Linked DNA regions of Homo sapiens: region 2 is linked to region 1. Evidence: fine-mapped expression QTL. A gene starts in region 1. The other region holds a variant in brackets. All regions are shown on one strand. Distances are between the middles of the regions. Region 1 holds the start of DGCR2 (DiGeorge syndrome critical region gene 2). Region 2 overlaps DGCR2 (DiGeorge syndrome critical region gene 2).

Region 1 (2,895 bases):
CCTCCAAGAGCCTATATGATACCCTCCTCCACAGGTAGCCCTTTTCCTGGCTTCTGTTCTTACCAAGGCCACCCCACAACTAGTCATCCCGCTGCCCAGAGAGCAGCCAAAAGCAGTGAGCAACTAGCTCTACATGGGGAGACCAGAGAAGCATCACTGAATCTGTCCAGGTTGAGCACCGGTCAGGGCCTTGGCCACCAGGCAGGCACTAGGGAGGAGGCAGACATTCCACATAGATGACACAAGCGCAGAGCCAAGAGGTGCGGTGTATCTGGGCTGGGAGCCTGGCTAGGGCACAGGAGAGGGCCACACACCCCGTGCTCCCACACCCAGGTCATCAGAGAAGATGGCCCTGGCACTTCTGCCTTCATGGGACCTTTCCTCCATTAAGAAATATTAAGAGTCATGCTTTTTCACTGTATTAGTATAAAGATGACTGTATTAATATACATACGAAAACATTTTATTTGACCTAAAAGTTCATTTTTTTTCTGCTGACTTTAAAAAAAAATAAAATAACATTCGAAGGCTACTAAAAGTACCGTGGGCAAGTGATACCAGGATTCCTGTGCCTGATGGATACATCGGCCCTGCATTTAGGGAGTTTGATTTTTTGGTGCAGTTCAAGGGGAGGTACACCGAAATAGGTAGAAAAGGGTCTCCTGGTTGCCACGGTTCTGATTCCCCACCACAGACTTAAGAACACACTAGCTCCGAGGGGAGTTCCAAAGCACGGACTCATTCATCACATACACGCAGCACGGCTAAGGGCCCCGCACAGTGGCGAGGTCTCTGCTCCCGGGACGCTCGCGCCGGCCACACAACGCTAGGCTGACTCCTGGTGCCTCCTCTAGGCCCGGTGGGACCTGAGGACTTCCTTAGCGCAACGTCTCACTGAATGACAGCCACAACCACCGCTGTCCAGGCGAGGAGTTTCCAGGACTGAGAGGCTGGCACTAGGCCACTGCTGGGAGGACGTCTGTGAAACCAGGTGCCCCTGAGAGCCACTGTCCCCAGCCCGACTCCGACGCTGGACTGGCGAGAGGGTGCGCCCGTGGCGTAGCTCCTGGCCGCCGCCGCTCCCGGGAAGGGCCCAGAGGCAACATCCTGGACAGCAGAGCTGCACGAAGTCCGAGGCGCCGCGAGCCCAGGTAAGCTCCAGCAGGCGTCCGCAGAGAGTGCCAGGCGGCCCGCGAGCCAGGCCCCGCCCGCCCCTGCCCCAGGCGCGGCCCCTGCAGGAGGGCGCCGCGGGTGAAAGGAGGTCCCGGGGCGACCCCGGCCCCGCTCGCCGCCCAGCCCCCACACCGCCCCCATCGCGCGGCGCACCTGGCCGCAGCGGCTCGGTGACAGTGAGCACGAGCAGGAAGAGCAGCAGGAAGGCGCCGCTGTCTGCCTTGGGCACCATTTATCCTCCGTTCATCGTCCCCGGGGCGGCTGGAAGGCCGGACCAGGCCGGACTGAGGGTCAGGGGACCGTGCCAAGCGGAGGGTCAGGCGGAGCTGAACCTGGGCGAGGCGCGGAGAGGCGGCGGGAAAGAGCTTCGGCTGGGCCGCGGGCTGGCGCACACTCTCGGCTGCAACCTCAGGCACCGACTCCAGCTGCGCGCAAGATGGCGGCCGTCCTGCTCGGCTCCGCGCCGCGCCGCCCCGCCCCGCCTCCCGCCCGCGACGCAGGCGCGGGCCAATGACCGTCAAGATGGGGGGCGGGGCCAGAGCCAAAGCCCTCCGAAGAGGGTGAGGCCTAAGGTCGCGACGGCGGAGGGCGGGGACCTAAGGGCGGGGACTGAGGGGCGGGCTCTAAGGGAAGGGCGGGACCATACGGAGTGAGGCGTGCCATTGGTTAAGCAGAGAGGCAGGGCCGGGGCCGGGGCCTGAGCGGCGGGGCCACCGAAGGGAGTAGGGTCTCTGGACGCCGGTTAGGGACGGCGGGCGCGGGACGGCAAGGATGGACATCGAAAGGCGCGGGGCATGGGGCGGGGCGCCGAGGGGTCGCGCGGGTGGGGAGCGGAGAGAACGAAGTGGGAACCTGGCTGGGACTCCAAGGGTCTTCACACCTGCAAGCTCAGGTCCCGTGAGCAGCCCAAAAGTGCGCCCCAAAGGGGTCTTTTTAAGGCCGAACCGCTGTGGAGGAGGGAGGGCCTGCCGGTTCTGAGGGTGGGGAAAGAGGAACAGGAATGGCCTAAGAGAGTGTCAGGCAAAGAGAGACCGGGAAGGCCAGGTCCTGGAGACTGCAGCGAAGCCGGCTCCCTGGAGGACCTGCCTACACAATGGCTAGGGGAAGGCCACATGTGCAGGAAAGAAAGCTAGGCAGAGAGGAGGCTCAGCGCCCCTGCGAACAGTGCTCCAAGTGCCACTTCTCCCGTCATCACCAACAGGGTGAACCTTGGAGGGCAGTGTCGGCGAAGAGTCCAACTCTGTAAAATATTTGAAGACATTTCTTCTGAGCCAATATGTGACCAATAGCCTGGGACACAGCCCCAGGAGATCCTGACAAGTGCCCAAGGGGGTAGGGCCACAGCTTGGTTTTATACATTTTAGGGAGACAAGACATCAATCAGCACATGTAAGATATACATTGGTTCAGTCGGAAAAGGCGGGACAACTTGAAAGTGGGGGGTGGAGGGGGGCTTCTAGGTCATGCGGATTGGCAGTTGGTTCAAAGAGTTTATCTAAAGACCTGGAATCAATAAAAGGGACTGTCTACATTAAGGGGTTGTGGAGACCAAGTTTCTTAGGCAAATGAAGCCTCCAGGTATCAGGCTTCACAGAGAAAAGACTGTTAATGTTTCTTATTAAAAAGTGCCAGACTCTGCCGGGTGTGGTGGCTCACGCCTGTCATCCCAGCACTTTGGGAGGCCAAGGCGGGCGGATCACCTGAGGTCAGGAGTTCAAGATC
Region 2 (2,895 bases), 87 kb before region 1:
GCTCTCATGCCCTGTGTGGGGCTCCTGCCTCTGCCTAGGAGGGGTCCTGACCACAGGGTGCTGACTTGTGTGGCTGTCATTCTCCAGGGTCCAAGGGCCTGGAGGTGCTGAGTCATAGCCTCGGAAGATGAAGGGCCCTAGGGTAGAGTTCCGCCGGACCCTGTGAAAGTCAATGTTGATGAGGGACTGGCCTGGGCCCCCACAGGCAGGGGGCCAGCTTCTTCCAGTGGGTGGGGACTGCTGGAACAAGGACTGGGGCCTTTGGGGTGGGGGGGGGGTCAGGGAGGCAGCCTGGGGGTGCAGCAGAGAGTGGCCCCCATACACCCAGAGGATAGCCCAGCCTCAGGAAACCTAGCTCCCTGCTTCCCCCACACCTGAACAGGTCACAGCACCCCCCTTCTCTTGTACCCTGCATCTGACCTATCCATCTAGTCTCCCAGTTGGCTGCCCCATGGTGAGATGAAGGTGGAAGGGTCTCCGGCACACAGTTGCACACCCACACTGGGACCTCTATCACCTGCACACACTTGGGCTGGCCACAGTAACGGGCACACCAGCCTTGACTGACTCGGGACCGGCAATCACAGCAGGCCCAGACTCACACACAGGGGGACAGTCACGCACTTGCACCTGATGCCCAGTCAGTCTACTGGGGCAGACGACTACAGACAGAAACCTGCAAAGGCCACAGAGTGCAGGGTGCAGACTGTCTCTTGGCCACTCTTGCACCACTGGCACATGCTCTGGTGGTCCCAGGACACAGACTGATCTGACACAGCCTCACATGACACTCTGTCCTCACCATACTTGAGGTCCTGGGAGTCATAGCACCAGGCACCTATAGAGACAGTGGGCAGGAGGCTGAGCTGAGAGGCCAGTCATCTGGGCCCTCTCCAAGCCCCATCCCATCAGCTGGGGTCCAAGAATGAAGTAGGTCAGGGGTTTAGGCCAGGGGAGGCCAGTGAAGAACCTTCTCTCCTGTCACCCCTACCTCAGTATTTTCTCTCCCCAGTCCCTCCCCACTCCCAGTGGCAAGACCTAAGGGGTGGTGGAGCATGGCAAGAGGGTAGATTGGAGGCCAGACAGGAAGAGTCCTGGTGCTCACTCTCAGAGTCTGCGCCACACCAGCTGCACCGCAAGGCGAGCATGATGCCAGGGGCGTGCGTGGCTCAGTGGCAGCCGCAGCTAGGAAGGACTAGAAAGTGGCTAGACCACGCAGCCAGGATGCTGGCCTGGCTACTACATATTTATTCATTAGCTAGCTGGGCTAGGGGCGTGGCTACTGAGGAGAGGATGGGAGGGGTCGGTGCCCAGGCAGGGCCACCAGGAAGAGCGCGAGCGCTCCAAACTCACCCAGGTGTGC[T/C]CTGGTCCCAGGGCTGCACTGATGCCAGCAACAATCGCTGAGGTTAATCCTGCAGGGGAGGGGTGACCTATTATTATCCCCACTTACAGTCCAGGAAACAGAGGCTGGGGACCAGAATGACACACCAAAGCCACCAGCAAGAAAGGTCAAATAGTGAGGGCACCTTGGACCCCAGTGCCCATGACTTTCGGGGCAAGGATGGGAGGAAGGTGTAGGATGTCTCTTGCCCCACTGTGGGCCCGGAACTGCCACCCCATCCCAAGACCACAGCCTCCCTCCTACCCAGGCCCCCCTGCGGATCCAGGCCAAGACGGAGCCCTGCAGGAGGTCAGAGGAGGGGACTTCTTTGCACCCTGCGCCTCTTTCCAATCGCCAGAGGGCAGGGCCCTACCCACATTGGGGATGGGAAGACAGCCCCTACCCAGAGGCAGGGCTCGGGGCTCTGTCCAGAGTGCTGACAGTGACCTGTGTGCTCGGGACTCAACACCACCACTCCACTCCTGCCCCAGCAGATGGGATAAAAAATGAGGGGCCACATCCTCGAGGCTCCCATCCCTGCCAAGGGACTTACCAGTTCCTTTCCTAACCCTGACTCCTCTCGTGTCCGGCCGCAGGACGTCCCCCCAGTATACACATCTGGAGTGCCCCCAGAGCAGGGCATGCAATCACACTTCCTGGGCCCACTACCCTCTGAGACCTAGAGATGGCACTGCTGGACATGAGTGAAGAGGCCCCAGAGGACCTAGGCTACTTTGTAACATTAGGTGGCTTGGACTGGAGGGAGGGGCTGTTTCCAGCCACCCGGATGATGAGGGGAGCTTAGAGGAAATGGCGCTGACGGCCAGGTTCCAAGCCCTGCCCTACCACCCCGTCCCATGCTAGCTCCCAGATGGTGTCAAGCAGCCTTGCCTTTATGTGGATCCTGTGCACGTCAGCAACACCTGCCAAGGCAGCAGCCGATGCCCCAAGCAGGGCTGGGTGCTGCAGGATAGCTGTAGGCAGCTCAGGGCTGCTGCTCTCCCTGCACACTCCACCTAGGGGCTCCAGGCTCAGCTCTGCCTGGTCCTCAGGGGGTTTGATGGACGCCTGCAAGGGCTGCAAACCCTAGGTGCATTCTGCTGAAAGGTGGGTACCCAGCCTCTTCCACCTTAGCCTGTGGCAGCCGTGGGGGCCACACCAAGGACTAACCATGCCTCTTCCGGAACACAAGTTTATTTGGCATTTGGATGAAATGATTCTCACAGCATCTTAAGAAAAGTTAGTGTCAACCCAACCAAAAACTAAAAACCCTTAATGAAAACATAAAAAAACAGGCATCAAGACAATGTACAGTATCAAATCCCACCTCCGCATGGCAGGTCAGAGGGCACCTGGGCTCTGAGAAACCGTGGCAAGCTGGTCCTAGAGGAGGAGGACCCCTGGAGCACAAGGTTCAGCAAGGGTGACCCCGGGACTTGCTGGTCAGACTGGGGACTGCAGCAGGCCTTGCAAAGGGGGCATTCTGGATGGTGGTGCAAGAACAGATGAGCGAG

Evidence for each region.
Region 2: its variant is fine-mapped to the expression of DGCR2 in whole blood (TOPMed, PIP 0.97).

Annotation. Positions count from the first base shown.
Region 1 is chr22:19,120,802-19,123,696 of GRCh38, forward strand. It overlaps DGCR2 (DiGeorge syndrome critical region gene 2), which reads right to left and starts at 1,611. Exons shown (of 10, transcript NM_005137.3): 1 at 1,327-1,611. The coding sequence starts at 1,405. RefSeq lists an enhancer at 970-1,471 and silencers at 1,256-1,375, 1,496-1,935.
Region 2 is chr22:19,033,727-19,036,621 of GRCh38, forward strand. It overlaps DGCR2 (DiGeorge syndrome critical region gene 2), which reads right to left. Exons shown (of 10, transcript NM_005137.3): 10 at 2,560-2,895. It also overlaps the pseudogene CA15P1. Among named protein-coding and RNA genes, the nearest start is that of FAM246C, 5.6 kb to the left of the region's middle. RefSeq lists a silencer at 2,293-2,462. The variant T/C (reference allele first, on the strand shown) is at 1,364.